Regions from separate parts of the Homo sapiens genome. Here region 1 is linked to region 2. The links come from fine-mapping of genetic effects on gene expression. Tissue or cell type: whole blood. Region 2 holds a variant in brackets; the other region holds the start of a gene. All regions are shown on one strand. Distances are between the middles of the regions.

Region 1 (8,169 bases), 48 kb before region 2:
CTACTGGACTGTAAGCTCCAAGTAAGTAGGACCCATGTCTGTTTTACTCAATAGTGTGTTCCCAGCTCCTAACGCAATGCCTGTCTTAGTCTATTTGAGCTACTATAACAAAATGCTTTGGACTGAGTGGCGTGTAAATAACACAGATTTGTTTTTCACAGTTGTGGAAGCTAGGAAGTCCGAGATCAAGGTGCCTGCAGATTTAGTTGAAGGGCCTGCTTTCTGGTTCCTAAAGGCGCCACCTAATATAGTTTGGTGCAAAAGTAATTGCGGTTTTGGCCATTAAATGTAAGCCACTTTTAATGGCCAAAAAAAGTGGCTTACTCTTAATGGCCAAAACCGCAATTACTTTTGCACCAAAGCTTACTTTTAATGGCCAAAACTGCAATTACTTTTGTACCAAAGTACTTTTATCTGGCTTTTTTTGTTTTGTTTTGTTTTGTTTGTTTGTTTGAGACAGAGTCTTGCTCTGTTGCCCAGGCTGGAGTGCAGTGGCGTGATCTCGGCTCACTGCAACCTCTGCCTCCCAGGTTCAAGAGATTCTCCTGCCTCCGCCTCCCAAGTAGCTGGGATTACAGGTGCCTGCCACCACACCCAGCTAATTTTTGTATTTTTAGTAGAGACAGGGTTTCACCATGTTGGCCAGGCTGGTCCGGAACTCCTGACCTCAAGTGATCCACCCGCCTCAGCCTCCCAAAGTGCTGTGATTACAGGCGTGAGCTACCGCTTCCAGTACTTTTAATAGCCAAAACCACAATTACTTTTGCACCAATCTAATACCATCAAATTAGTGATTAGATTTCATTTCTCCTGAGAGGTTATAACTTTGTTTTGTTTTGAGAGACCGGGGTCTCCCTATGTTGTCTAGGCTGGTCTCCAACTCCTGGGCTCCACTGATCCTCCCACCTTGGCCTCCCAGAGTGCTGGGATTACAGGCATGAGCCACCTTACCAAGCCAAATCATAACTTTGAAAACACAGTGAACCACTAAAATAGTGTAGCCACTTTGGAAAATAGTCTGGCAATTCCTCAAAACATTAAACACAGTTACCACAGATCCCAGCAAGGACACTCCTAGGTATATACCCAAGAGAGCATGAAACCTGTGTCCACACAAAAACTTGTGCACAAATGTTCAGAGCAGCATTATTCATAATAGCCCAAAGGTGAAAGCAATCCAAACATCCCACTAATGAGTGGATAAACGAAATGTGGTATAAAAATACCCATACCATGTATTATGATGAGCCATAAACAGGAATGAAGTACTGATAACACGCAGCAACATGAATGAACCTTGAAAACATGCTAAGTGAAAGTCACAGAAAGGTCATATAGTGGATGATTCCATTGATGTGGAATGTCCAAAATGGGCAAATCCATAGAGACAGAAGGTAGATTTGCGATTCCTGGGCTGCGAGTGTTGAGGGGAGTGGACAGTAACTGCCAGTGGGCCGGGTTCTTTTCAGATGGGGGTGATGAAAATGTTCTAAAAGTAGACAGTGATGTTGGTTGCACAACGCTATGGATACACTAAAAACTGCTGAATTGTACATTTTATTTTTTGTTTTGTTTTGAGATGGAGTCTTGCTCTGTCGCCCAGGCTGGAGTGCAGTGGCGCCATCTCAGCTCACAGCAATCTCCGCCTCCCAGGTTCAAGCAGTTCTCCTGCCTCAGTCTCCCGAGTAGCTGGGATTACAGGCGCCTGCCATCATGCCTGGCTAATTTTTGTGTTTTTAGTAGAGATGGGGTTTCACCATGTTGGCCAGGGTGGTCTCAAACTCCTGACCTCAAGTGATCCACCTGCCTCGGCCTCCCAAAGTGCTGGGATTACAGGCGCGCACCACCATGCCCGGCTAATTTTTGTATTTTTAGTAGAGACAGTGTTTCACCATGTTGGCCAGGCCGGTCTTGAGCTCCTGACCTCAAGTGATCCGCCTGCCTCAGCCTCCCAAAGTGCAGGGACTACAGTTGTGAGCCACCGTGCCTGGCCAGAATTGTACATTTTAAAAGTACTATGTAGGCTGGATGTGGTGGCTCACACCTGTAATCCCAGCACTTTAAGAGGCTGAGGAGGGCAGATCACGAGGTCAGGAGTTTAAGACCAGCCTGGCCAACATGGTGAAACACCGTCTCTACTAAAAATACAAAAATTACTCGGGTGTGGTGGCGGGCACCTGTAGTCCCAGCTACTTGGGAGGCGGAGGCAGGAGAATTGCTTGAACCTGGGAGGCGGAGGCTGCAGGGAGCTGAGATCGCACCATTGCATTCCAGCCTGGGCAACAGAGTGAGACTCTGTCTCAAAAAAAAAAAAAAAAAAAAAGACTATGCTTATGGCATATAAATAATATCTAAATAAAGCTGTAGTTTTTGAAAATTAAAAAAGATTTTTTTTCTTTTTTTCAATCCTGCTCCTTCTATAGAAATATTGTTTTCAAGTCATGTCTTGCTTTAAACAAACCTACTAAAATCAATAAGGAGATTTAAAAATTACAATAATAGTTTACTCTCAAGAAAAACAGCCCTGTGTACTTGAACTGTGCGGTGTGTGGCTGGACAGGAGGCGGCCGGTTGCAGAGATAACCAGCTCTTGGCTGCGGGGCCGTGGGCTAGGATGACATCCAGGAGCAGGGCTTGGGCGACTGCCTGGGGGCGGAGGGTGCCGTTGGCAGCTTCAGAAAGGAGAGTGAGAGGCAGATGTGGGGGTATTTGTTCTCCGGCACGTTTGTTTCCTCCTTCCTGGTCTTGCACCCCACCCTTTTTACTGCGCCCTGTCGGCGATCAGGACCACGCCCCCTTCACCTCGGGATCCCAGCACCCATGCGCTTCAGCAGCGCAACTAATTGCTGTTGGCTCAGGAAATGTGGACAATACGCAGGAAGGGACGCCGTGCCTTACAGCGACCGGCAGGGACTCGGCCGTCCGCGAGCCCAGCCGCCCGCCCCGCTCCGGCCAGGATGTTGGAGGTGGGTGACCGCGAAGAGGTCGGCGGGGGGCGGGGGCCGCAGTCTTTGTGCGCGCGCAGCTCCCGGCTCCCGCCGCTGGGGGGCGGCCTCCGCCCTGCCGACCCCCGACAATAGCGCGAGGGGTGGGGAGCGCGCGGTCCCGGAAACTTTTCCCCGGCGCCTTCGCCGCCGCCGCCCGCGCCCGGGAGCGCGCCCTTCTCTGCCCGCGGTCGGTGCGCTCGGCCGGAGGCGCCGCGGCGGAACGGAACCCAGAGAAGGGCACGCGGGGCGGCGGCGCTCGGGGCTTGCCCGCGGCGAGGGAGGCTGCGCCCAGGTCCCCGGCCCCGCGCCGCGCGCCCAGCCGCGCCATGGGGGAGGCGCCCAGCCCCGCGCCCGCGCTCTGGGACTGGGACTACCTGGACCGCTGCTTCGCCCGCCACCGCGTCTGCATCTCCTTCGGCCTGTGGATCTGCGCCTCCTCCTGCTGGATCGCCGCCCACGCGCTGTAATGGGGCCACGGGTCGGGGGGCTGTCGGGCGGGGAAACGGGCGCCAATCCCCTGCTGCTCCCTCTCGGAAACCTAGAGGAGGGGGCGGAAAGGGGGATGAAGGAGATGGCTCAGTAATAGGATCCAATGGAACATTGCTCTGTAGACTGAAGTGGGATCTTCTTTCCGGATCCCACGCACAGGGAAGCTGGGCTGTGAGCCAAAGGGAGGAGGCTGGGTGGTGCAGCGGATGGGGCCCCGAGGACACCGCGAGCCCTGGGTGCTATTGTCAGCCCTTCGCCATTGACTCGCAGTGTGACCTGGGCAAGCTCCAGAACCTCTCTGGGCCTCCTATGACCGGAGATAATACCTCATAGGATGATGGGAGGATTCGATGAATCAGTACCGTTAAAGCACTTAGTAAATGCTCATTAAACATCATTTGTATTGCTCCAGCTAGGCCACCAACTCTTAGGACCTTGGCAAGTCCCTTGATGTTTCTGGCCTCAGTTTACCCAAAGTCCTCTTAGGTGGGAAGGGAGGTAGTGATATGATCCAGCTGGCCTGTCTTTGCCCTGGTCTGTCCAGCACCTGGACTGGTTTGTCCAGATGCCCACGGTAGCCTAAGTTCTAAGAGTGAATCTCCAGGTCCTCAGCCGCTCTGTCCTAGGCATGGAAATCCACTAGCAGTGCTCAGGATGGTGCCGCCCAAGCATTCCCTGGCAGGGGAGAAAGGACCAGCACCCCTGGGAGAGGTTAGAACTGTCTCCCTGTAGGCACTCAGTGGATATTCTCCTAAGGCGTTTGGTCGTATTGCAGAGATTCTGCAGCCCCACTACCCAGTACTGCAATACAAATAAAAAGACGCCTAGAACATTTACTGTAGGCCCAGTGTTGCATTCATTAACTCATTCAATGCCTGCCACTCACAATATCAGCACCAGGAGGTAGGTGCTGTTACCCCCACTTTCTGTAGGGAACCCTGAGGTTCTGAGAGGTTAAATAACTTGTCTGAGTGAAAGGAAAGAACCAAAACCCCAGATCCTATTGGAAAGGGGCAGGCTGGTAAGAGAGATTAAACTGTTCAGATCAGAGGCTGGAAACTAACAAGGCGCTGGACACGCATTATCCTTTTGTTCCTCACAGTTGTCCTCAGACCAGCACTGTTAGGCACTTTGCCAACCTTGGAGGGGTTAAGAGTGAGCCTCTGCTTCTCACCCTGCCTGGGATCTGGACATACCCATTTGTTTTCAGGGCCTTGCCATCCCTGAACCTCCCCTGCTCCCCTTTCTCTTAGAAGAATGTGTCTTCGGAGTGGTGTGTGGGCTGGGTTAAGGTCAGCTGGCACCCTGGCCCCAAGAGCTGGGGAAGTGGCTGAGAACAACAGGGTACGGAGCAAAGCCCCCGCGTGTGAAGCCAGAAGACCACCATTAACTCACCTTCTCACCAGAGGCCTCAGTTTTGTCCTCTCAAATGGGAGGGTTGATATAAATTATTTCTAATTGGGGTCCGCCTCTGGGAGTCTCCAATTTAAGAATCTCCACTCCTTGGTCTTCAATTGGTTTTAGGAGCCCAGGGCCCAGACTGAAGTTGATGTTGCCACTGTGAGCTTCAGGCTTGGGCCAGCAGGTCAGGAAATGTTTAGAAAGCCAAGAGCCCTCTGTACTCATCCACCATTCCCAAGGACAGGCGCTCAGAATCAGCTAAATCGTCCTAAGGATGTGGAATGAGCACCACCCTCTGCTGAGTGGAAATGAAGCCAGCGCTGCCACCCTGTCTCGGTGTCTCCAGAGAAATGTAGCAAGGAGGCAGGTACGACAATGTATTTCAGAGGCCCTATCAGTGACGCCGATAGAAACAGCCAGCCCCTTCGGAAGGCAGGTACGACAACATATTTCAGAGGCCCTATCAGTGACGCTGAGGGAAACAGCCAGCCCCTTCGGGAGGCAGGTATGACAACGTATTTCAGAGGCCCTATCGGTGACGCCAATAGAAACAGCCAGCCCCTTCGGGAGGCACGTGCGACAACGTATTATTTCAGAGGCCCTATCAGTGATGCCGACGGAAACAGCCAGCCCCTTCGGGAGGCAGGTACAACAGCGTATTATTTCAGAGGCCCTATCAGTGATGCCGACGGAAACAGCCAGCCCCTCCAGGAGGCATGTGCGACAACGTATTTCAGAGGCCCCATCAGTGACGCTGACGGAAACAGCCAGCCCCTTCGGGAGGCAGGTACGACAGCGTATTATTTCAGAGGCCCTATCAGTGATGCCGACGGAAACAGCCAGCCCCTCCAGGAGGCACGTGCGACAACGTATTTCAGAGGCCCCATCAGTGACGCCGACGGAAACAGCCAGCCCCTTCGGGAGGCAGGTACGACAGCGTATCATTTCAGGGGCCCTATCAGTGACGCCGATGGAAACAGCCAGCCCCTTCTGGAGGCAGGTACGACAGCATACTATTTCAGGGGCCCTATCAGTGACGCCGATGGAAACAGCCAGCCCCTTCGGGAGGCAGGTACGACAGCGTATCATTTCAGGGGCCCTATCAGTGACGCCGATGGAAACAGCCAGCCCCTTCTGGAGGCAGGTACGACAGCATACTATTTCAGGGGCCCTATCAGTGACGCCGATGGAAACAGCCAGCCCCTTCGGGAGGCAGTACGACAGCGTATTATTTCAGGGGCCCTATCAGTGATGCCGACGGAAACAGCCAGCCCCTTCGGGAGGCAGGTACGACAGCGTATCATTTCAGGGGCCCTATCAGTGACGCCGATGGAAACAGCCAGCCCCTTCTGGAGGCAGGTACGACAGCATACTATTTCAGGGGCCCTATCAGTGACGCCGATGGAAACAGCCAGCCCCTTCGGGAGGCAGTACGACAGCGTATTATTTCAGGGGCCCTATCAGTGACGCCGATGGAAACAGCCAGCCCCTTCGGGAAGCAGGTACGACAGCGTATTATTTCAGGGGCCCTATCAGTGACGCCGATGGAAACAGCCAGCCCCTTCGGGAGGCAGGTACGACAGCGTATTATTTCAGGGACCCTATCAGTGACGCCGATGGAAACAGCCAGCCCCTTCTGGAGGCAGGTACGACAGCATACTATTTCAGGGGCCCTATCAGTGACGCCGATGGAAACAGCCAGCCCCTTCGGGAGGCAGTACGACAGCGTATTATTTCAGGGGCCCTATCAGTGACGCCGATGGAAACAGCCAGCCCCTTCGGGAGGCAGGTACGACAGCGTATTATTTCAGGGGCCCTATCAGTGACGCCGATGGAAACAGCCAGCCCCTCCGGGAGGCAGGTACGACAGCGTATTATTTCAGGGGCCCTATCAGTGACGCCGATGGAAACAGCCAGCCCCTCCGGGAGGCAGGTACGACAGCGTATTATTTCAGGGGCCCTGTCAGTGACGCCGATGGAAACAGCCAGCCCCTTCGGGAGGCAGGTACGACAACGTGTTTCAGAGGCCCTATCAGGGACGCCGATAGAAACAGCCAGCCCCTTCAGGAGGCATGTACGACAATGTATTTCAGAGGCCCTATCAGTGACGCCGATAGATACAGCCAGCCCCTTCGGGAGGCATGTACAACAACGTATTTCAGAGGCCCTATCAGTGACGCTGATAGAAACAGCCAGCCCCTTCCTGCCCTTCCGTGCATCTTCTCCAGTGGATATGGACTGGGGAGGGGCTGTAAGGGGAGAAGTGGCTGTGGGGGCGCTGAGGGAGGGACAGCTCCAAGTGCCAAAAGGGCTCTGTGTTTAAAGAACATGGACACAGGCCAGCAGAAGCCAGGCTGCCCCACTTCACAGATGGTTTAGAAGAATTTCGTTTGAATTTATTTCAGAGAAACAAGTTGTCTTTTTAATTCAGGCAATTAACTGTGCTCTGCAGTTATCTGCAGTGGTTGGGTTGCTTTTTTTTTTTTTTGAGACGGAGTCTCGCTTTGTCACCCAGGCTGGAGTGCAATGGTGTGATCTTGGCTCACTGCAACCTCTGCCTCCTGGGTTCAAGCAATTCTCTTGCCTCAGCCTCCGGAGTAGCTGGGATTACAGGCGCACGCCACCACACCCGGCTAATTTTTGTATTTTTAGTAGGGGCGGGGTTTCACCATGTTGGCCAGGATGGTCTCGAACTCCTGACCTCAGAGGATCCTCCTGCCTCGGCCTCCCAAACTGCTGGGATTACAGGTGTGAGCCACCATACCCAGCCTGAGTTACTTTTATAACCCTCCTGTTTCCTTTTCAAAAAATAAAACCCGATGGCTGCTTTTTCAGTGCTAGGTGGGGGGTCATCAAATGGAGCCGTCCTGATTTGGAGTCGGAAAGTAAAATTCCTCTTCCTCCAAAGAGGCGGTGTCTTCACATCTCACGAGGTCTAGCTCCTGCCATGGGCATCTGGACAGGCGGCTCTGGAGTCTTCTGATTGGTTCCCATCTGTAAACTCAGTTCAAAAACACGTCCTAAATACCTCGGGCAGAAAGAGCTCCCTGACGATGCGGGGTCACAGTTGCCCTTTTTAGATACATGCGTTTGGGTCCAAACTCACAGTTGCTGTGTTCTGTCCACACCCCTGTCACCCCAGGCTTCTCTATCTGAGATGTGCACAGAAACCCAGACAGGACCAGTCGGCACTGTGTGCTGCGTGCTGCCTCCTGACCAGTCTGTGTGACACCGTCGGGGCTCTTCTGGCCAGACAGCTCACAATCCAGGTATGTTGGGCCTCCAGCTGACA
Region 2 (8,237 bases):
CCCTGGCAAGTGAGGAACCAGGAGCCGTCACTGAGTGTGGCTGGGCTACATCATAGCTCATCACGGAGCTACGACTTTGGGTACTGCGGACAGACCTGGATAGGCCCAGCATTCGTTCTGAAGATCACAGTTCACAGAAGCTTTTGCTTCGTAAAGATAATCCAAAGGATCTCAGACCCGCTCTTCCTTTTCCCTTCATTCCCTTGAGAGTCAGCCATGAACGGAATACCTGCTAGGTTCCAGGAATGAGCTCACCTAACAGATAGCAAATGTGTCTGGTTAGATCTCAGCAGAGCCCATTCTGCAAGACCTGGCTGAGCCAGATGAGAGGGTGGGCCCTGTGCTGGGGGGCCTTGGGTCACACACAGGAACCGAGACCTGGCTTCCACCCCCCAGTCACCCACTTGGGTTATCTGCTGGAAGTTATCGATAGGACTGTGTGGCCAACCAAGTGCTTGTGAGATCACTGACACTGCAAAAACAAAGCAAACTGCTCCGGGTACCAGGACTTCCTCCAACCTGGCAAGGGTGTGCGCTGAGGCGGGGCTTGCAGGTGAGGGGGCTGTATGCTTCAGGAACTAACTAAATGCATGCAGAAGGTAAGAGGCATGATGGGAGGTGTTCAAGCACAGCAATCCCATTTGGGAGTTATTTTGATACTGCGATGAGTAAGGGTAAGGGCGCATGGAATGGGGCTAAGGTGGGAGTGAACACTGGGGTGAATAAATTTTAAATCAATTCAAGTATCTCACTGTGGAGTGCAATGGCGAGCATGAATCCCTGCACAGTCACAGAATGACGTCGGCCACGAGAGGAAGTGGAGAAATGCCAAGCAACACAGTTTTGCTCCGGGCTGGCCCACAGCCGCCTGCGTGACGCAGCTACAGCAGCCCAGTTTCTCCTGAGGGGTAGGGCAAGTTCCAGCAGCATGAAGGGGGTCCCTTGGGGAAGCAGCGTGGCTCTGCAGGTCTCTGCATAGATCCTAATCCCCTGGGTGACCTCTGAACTACAAGTGATCTTAAAGCCACTTTATTTATCCCCTTTAATCTGAACTGTGTTGGTCCCTGGTTGTCTTGGAAAGTTTGCTGAAGTCAGCTTTGCTTTGTGATGTTAACCACTGAAGCTGTACTTCCAGGGAAGAGGAAGATTTGAATGGAGACCCAGGATGCAGGGAGAAAAGAGTGTTCAAATAGATGAAATAGTACAGAGGACTGGATGCAGGGAAAGGTGGGAGCTAGCAAGGAAGAATCTGAGATGGCCAGAATGGATGATGTAGTATGGGCTGTAGGGGTGGCAAAAAGGCTGAAAAGGAACCAGACTGGAGGCTGGTGAGTCAGTGCTTGGTTCTGTGGCCAGCTGGTAGCCATGGAAGATACCAGAGTAGGAAGGTGACTGACTTGCCTCAGGAAGACCACAACTGATTGGTGAGTTTTTCATTCCTATGGCTACAACTTTCCAGGAAGCAGAAATATAGTCATGGGTACAGAATGAACGTGGGGAACAGGTTTAATCTAGAGTACTGAGTGGTAACAGCAGGGCAGAAGAGCTTCTCTTTAGAAAGGCGGAAGGCATGGGGATAGGATGACCTCTGGAGTTTGCCTTTAGCACATCCTCTGTCTTGAGGGAACTCTGGATCATGCTCCCTAGGGCACCAAAAATTGGTGGGATCCAGGTGAAAGTGGCCATTCACCCAAGAACATCAAATGATCTTGGCCAGGTGCAGTGGCTCACACCTGTAATCCCAGCACTTGTGGTAAGCTGCGGCAGGCAGATCACTTGAGGACAGGACTTCAAGACCAGCCTGGCCAACATGGTGAAACTCCATCTCTACTAAAAGTACAAAAAATTAGCCAAGTGTGGCGGCCCGCACCTGTAGTCCCAGCTACTCAGGAGGCTGAGGCACAAGAATTGCTTGAACCCACGGGGTGGAGGTTGCAGCGAGCTGAGATCGCACTGCTGCACTCCAGGCTGGGCAACATAACAAGACTGTCTCAAAAAACAACAAAAACCTTGCTGACTTTGAGTAACACGAACTACCTAAGGTCCAGATATCATCTATCTCCCTAGATCCTGTTAGCCCAGCCTCCTCCCTTCACAAACTGGTTCCTATCATCACGGTCCCAGCTTGTCTAAGGGTGTCTCCGGCCTCTTCATCCACAGTGAACTACCAAACTGGGAATTTTGGAAGCGAGGTTTGGCTTCATTGTTCAACGAGAATCTTCCTGTATGCAAAGCTCTAGAACACTGGAGCCTTTGTAAGGAGGTGCCAATTAAAATGCCTGTCTCCTAGTAGGAGTGGGCCTCTGTTGCAGCTTTGTTTCTAGCCGTTAGACCAAGAGGGCAGTGGGAGCAACTTGCTCTGATGACCCAGTGAGCAGTGCAGGCACTTTACCTACACTGGGGAGGGGCTGGGGAACAAACTATGTAATCATTGGCTCACTCATCTGGAGACCTGTAGTATCATCTGGTTGTGCCGCCTATCATCTGTGTGGCTTGGAGCATGTCACCTAACCTTTGTGAACTTCTTAGGTAGACTAAGAATAATACCAACCTAGAAAGCCTATGGTGAAGACTAAGTGAACTAACATGTATGAAAATGCAAACATAATACCTATTCAAAGAAGACTTTGGAGAGGGATTAGTTTTCTTTCCCCCCATGCTTCCTGCACACATGTACTGAAAGAGTAACCAAATAATTAGACCTGCAGATGGAAGAGATTTCAGAGGTTTGAATGCCCTTAAACACAACCCCAATTAGTGATTATCCAGTCTCTACTTAAGTTCTCTGAAAAAAAGGATATCAGTTGCCAAGTCTTTATCATTTAGCGAGAGCTCTGCTAAGATGATGATGATGATGATTTTTTTTTTTTTTTTGAGATGGAGTTTCACTCGTTGCCCTGGAGTGCAATGGCACGATCTCACTTCACTGCAACCTCCGCCTCCCAGGTTCAAGCGATTCTCCTGCCTCAGCCTCCCGAGTAGCTGGGATTACAGGCTCCCGCCACCATGCCTGGCTAATTTTTGTATTTTTAGTAGAGACGCTGTTGGCCAGCCTGATCTGGAACTCCTGACCTCAGGTGATCCACCTGCCTCAGCCTCCCAAAGCGCTGGGATTACACGAATGAGCCACCGCACCCAGCTAAAGATTTTCTTGAAAGCCTGTCTAGATCCTGAAGAACTAATCCCCTTATCTCCCTCCCTCAGTATGATGAAGAGATTTATGAGCATCATTTGAAGACACATTCATATTATGTTTCTTTCAAAGGGGTATGAGCTCCTAGAATAAGAAGAGGCACTGGGCCAAGGAGCATGGCTGGGCTCCAGTTCCCAGGTCTGATTCAGTGTGATCTTTGTCATTTCCTTTTCTATGTCACAGTTTCCTCATCTGTAAACTGAAAGTTGGGCCTGATTTTTTTCATTTTTTCTCTTTTATGCATGTGCCAATTTGTTTCCCACAGAATACTGACATCTTTATAAGCTCTCAAGAAAGACATTATAAAAACAAATTTCAGATATACTTTGAACATAGGCTTCATTATACGACATATACCTCTTTCTGTTTGGATTTTACTGTCCACTTAATATAAAAACCTGTATTAATCACTAAGGAAAAGGATAGAGGAGACTTAGAAATATCTCCAGAATAATTTTGCAACAATTCCAAGATTCTCTGCACTTCTTTTTCTGTCCCTTAATTGGCCTCCTCCACATTTTCCAACTATGGAGGTATTGCTCTACTCTCTTCGACTTTACATTGTTTTAGAATGCTTTTGCAAGGAGACTCTGCCTTGAATGAACCCAAGATATGGTGCAATGTTGAGGAAGATCTCCAAGTTTACACATGCCTGTACGATGGCCCAAAGGTCATCATCAGGTGAAAGGGACGACCTTAGAGATGAAAGAAGTTCAAGGAATGGTGCTACATTAAATGACTTAGCATTAGAAAGCATCTACTTTGCTTTTTCTTTCACCAACCCTGAAAGCCAAATAAGGCACTGGGCATTCAGGCCTTCTTTTGAGCAGAACACGTGATTACGCAGTTATTCTTCAAGAGCCTCTGTTAATCTGTCGCTTGGAGAACTCTGCATACTGTCCCAAATCCGTCTGAATTTTCCATCGGCTGCCAGTGTTCGTAGCAGAGGCCTCGGGTCTTCTCGTCCTCTCCTCAGGGTCTGGCAGCTGTCACTACCGTGGACTTCGGTCCAGTCCCCAGAGTCGGGGGCGCTGCCTTTCCCATTTCAGTTGCCAGGGGGTTCATCCACGATCGTGCCAGAGGGGCAGCGCGTGGTCTCCTCGAACTACGGGGGAGAGAGGAACCACTGTTGGCACGGGCCGGACTGAACGCCGGCTCCCACTGCCTACCTCCTCGGAGCTGCATCCGCCGACATCTTGCGCCCTACTCCCAGCACCAGCAGGGCACTTCCGGGAAGAACGGAATTGCGGTTCCGCGCGTGCGCACTCCGCAGCCACCGCCTCCCGCGAGGAGCGAGAGTCCCGCGGCCCCGCCCCGCCGCCGCAGCCG[CCGCCGCAGCCGA/A]AGGCCGGCGTTTCTGACCTCAGCCAGCGGCGACGCAGCCGGGAAAGAACTGTCGAGGGCGTCTCCGTAGTTCAGTTTTGGTTTGTTTATTTGAGACGGAGTCTCTGTCGCCCAGGCTGGAATGCAGTGGCGCGGTCTCTGCTGACTGCAGCCTCCGCCTGCCGAATTCAAGCGATTCTTCTGCGACTGAATAGCTGGGACTACAGGGGCGCGCCACGACGCCCGGCTAATTTTTGTATTTTTAGTGGAGACGGAGTTTCACCATGTTGGTCAGGCTGGTCTCGAACTCCTGACCTCGTGATCCGCCCGCCTCGGCCTCCCAAAGTGCTGGGATTACAGGCGTGAGCCACCACGCCTGGCCCACCCCACTCGGTTTTTAAGGAGATAATTACAAGGTTATTTTACGGTTCATAGTGTGTTTCAGACCTCCCAGAAGCCTAACGGTGTATTATAAACCATTCTTTTCTTTGTTTTTAAATGCATTAAAAACCTTTTTTGAGATAAAAATAGTGCAAGTACATGGTTTAAAAAAAGAAAATCAGATTGCACCAAAAGGTTTATGATGAAAAACAATAATGTTCTGTCCCTTTGCCTCCAAGAGACTCCTTTTTAAAATCTTTTGGGCTGGGCGCGGTGGCTCACGCCTGTAATCCCAACACTTTGGGAGGGTGAGGCGGGCGGATCATCTGAGGTCAGGAGTTTGAGATCAGTCTGGCCAACATGGTGAAACCCCGTCCCTACCAAAAATACAAAAAGTAGCCGGGCGTGGTGGTGGGCGCCTGTAGTCTCAGCTACTTGGGAGGCTGAGGCAGGAGAATCGTTTGAACCGGCGAGGCAGAGGCTGCAGTGAGCTGAGACCGCGCCACTGCACTCCAGCCTAGGCAACAGGAGCAAAATTCTGTCTCAAAAAAAAAAAAAACTTTTATACCTTCTAGTAGTTGTCTCCATTAGGTTTGATTTGGAACATGCTTTCCAGCTACAGGGTTCTTAAGATCATACTTGCTTTTCCTGAGCTGCATCATCTTCAGCTTCCATTATACAGGCTGACGAGGCTCAGTAGCACGGCAGGGCCACTGGCGTATTGAGAAATGGATGGTCACCGTCTTCGCATCCGAGGGTTGTGTGGCGTGCCTCGCGCCAGGAACTCCTTGGCCACTCCGCAGTTTCCTAGCTAGAACCCGGCTTCTGAGCCCAGCACGCTCCAACAGCAGCCTGCCGCGGTCCACGCCTCTGCTCCGGACTTGACCTTTCCCTTCCGGCCTTCCTCCTACAGGTGTCTTGGCACCTGGAATCTCCAGAGGAAATCTGAGGGATTCTCTAAACCCACAGCTGGAACAAGGGACGTCATACACGGCGGCCACCACCATCTTTCCCAAGGACAGCATGGCCATGGATGAAAAGGGCCATTTCATGGGCCTTACCTTCTGCTAGCCAGTATAGCCTAAAGCCCTGATACTCAAATGTAGACTCTTAGGCTCCACCCGGAGGATTCCCTAGGTCTGGGCAGGGCTTGGGAAGCTTAGCAGGCTCCTCAGGTGATTCTGCTACAGATGGTCCAGGACCAGTCTCTGAAAAACACTGTCCTCGGGAAATTGCTTTTATGTATTTACTTTTTCCATCTCTTCTTGGTATTTTGTTATCATTTTCAAATACAGAGACGGAGTCTCACTATGATGCCCAGGCTGGTTCCGAACTCCTGGGCTCCAGAGATCCTCCTGCCTTGGTCCCCCAAAGTACTGGGATTACAGGCACAAGCCACCACTCCAGCCGGGAAATTACTTTTAAAACAGATCTATTTGTATGAGATGTTCTCACAAAACTACTTAGAATAGCAAACAAACAAAAAAAAAGTGATAAAGCTCCCAAACCCCACTGTTGTGCAGAATTAAACATACTTTTTTTTTTTTTTTTTTGAGATGGAGTCTGTCTCTGTTGCCCAAGCTGGAATGCAGTGGTGCCATCTCAGCTCATTGCAACCTCTGCCTCCTGGGTTCAGGCGATTCTCCTGCCTCAGCTTCCCGAGTAGCTGGGACTACAGGCGCGTGCCACCATGACTGGCTACATTTTGTATTTTTAGTGGAGACGGGGTTCGCCATGTTGGCCAGGCTGGTCTTGAACTTCTGACCCCAAGTGATCCACCTTCCTCGGCCTCCCAAAGCGCTGGGACTACAGGCATGATCCACCACACCTGGCCCAAACATTATGCTTTAATGAAGAAATGACATTTTGCCATTAAACCTAAAATATCACAGAACCATGGATTGAAGAACAGACATGAATTACCTTGAAATCATCTACTGCAGTGCCTGAGTGGCTTTGCCTGTTCTCACAGCATGAATTCTCAGTTCACACACAGTAAAAAAAAAAAAAAAAAAATTATGAAAGATAATGTCAGCTAATAGGCCGGGTGCAGTGGCTCACCCCTGTAATCCCAGTACTTTGGGAGGCCAAGTGGGGGCAGATTACCTGAGGTCAGGAGTTCAAGACCAGCCTGGCCAACATGGTGAATACCCCGTCTCTACTAAAAATACAAAAATTAGACACACGCCTGTAATCCCAGCTACTCGGGAGGCTAAGGCAGGAGAATTGCTTGAATCCAGAAGGCGGAGGTTGCAGTGATCACTGCACTCCAGCCTGGGCAACAGAGCAAAACTCTGTCTCAAAAAAAAAACAAAACCATAATGTAAACTAGTAAAGGTAGAACACAAGAGAGCTTGAGCCACCATTCACAATTATAAGAAAAATTTTGATAGATCAGAAAAGTCTTAGAAGTCATTAGATTCTGTTGTAAAAAGATTATGTGGATTTTTGTAGTAGATGTTTCTTGACTGTGGAAATACTTAAATACATCTTAAGAGAACTGTTCTAGTTTAAAGGAGTCTGCAGTGGGGATGGGGTGGGAGAGCTATATGGGATTACTGGGACAATTGAGCAAATTTGAATATGTACAGTGTATTAGCTAACTTTATTGTTTCCTTTCTTAATAATATTATGGTTGCACAGGAGAACGCCCCTTTGGATATACATGCTGAACTACTTAGGAGTGAAGCACCGTGATTTGGCAACTGACTTTTATTTTTTATTTTTTATTTTTATTTTTTGAGACAGAGTCTCGCTCTCTCGCCCAGGCTGGAGTGCAGTGGCATGATCTCGGCTTACTGCAAGCTCCGCCTCCCGGGTTCACACCATTCTCCTGCCTCAGCCTCCTGAGTAGCTGGGACTACAGGCGCCTGCCACCATGCCTGGCTAATTTTTTTTTGTATTTTTAGTAGAGACGGGGTTTCACCATGGTCTCGATCTCCTGACCTCGTGATCCTCCCGCCTTGGCCTCCCAAAGTGCTGGGATTACAGGTGTGAGCCACCGCACCTGGCCCCAAGCAACTGACTTTTAAATATTTCAGCAGAAAAAAATTATAAATTTTTCAGGTAGTTGGAGAGAGACAAAGCAAACGGAAAAACGGGAACAATGGATTAATCTAGGCGAATAGCATAAACATGTTCGTTATTCTTTCATCTTTTCTGTAGGTTGGAAGTTTTTCAAAGCCAGCTGGGTGAGAAAGAACAGGAGTAAAGAAAGATTCTCGCCAGGCGTGGCTCACGCCTGTAATCCCAGCACTTTGGGAGGCCGAGGCAGGTGGATCACCTGAGGTCAGGAGTTCGAGACCAGCCTCACCAACATGGAGAAACCCTGTTTCTACTAAAA

Evidence for each region. PIP is the estimated chance that this variant, and not a neighbour inherited with it, causes the effect.
Region 1: it holds the start of TMEM44, and the variant in region 2 is fine-mapped to the expression of TMEM44 in whole blood (TOPMed, PIP 0.96).

What each region holds. Positions count from the first base shown.
Region 1 is chr3:194,628,360-194,636,528 of GRCh38, reverse strand. TMEM44 (transmembrane protein 44) reads left to right here and starts at 3,110. Exons shown (of 10, transcript NM_001011655.3): 1 at 3,110-3,450; 2 at 8,020-8,146. The coding sequence starts at 3,314. TMEM44-AS2 (TMEM44 antisense RNA 2) reads right to left here and starts at 3,601. Exons shown (of 2, transcript NR_186047.1): 1 at 3,362-3,601. RefSeq lists an enhancer at 1-361 and a silencer at 2,912-3,341.
Region 2 is chr3:194,580,187-194,588,423 of GRCh38, reverse strand. It overlaps TMEM44 (transmembrane protein 44), which reads left to right. Exons shown (of 10, transcript NM_001011655.3): 10 at 1-746. TMEM44-AS1 (TMEM44 antisense RNA 1) reads right to left here and starts at 4,156. Exons shown (of 3, transcript NR_047575.1): 1 at 3,976-4,156. RefSeq lists enhancers at 4,140-4,189, 4,225-4,890 and a silencer at 4,380-4,639. The variant CCGCCGCAGCCGA/A (reference allele first, on the strand shown) is at 4,523.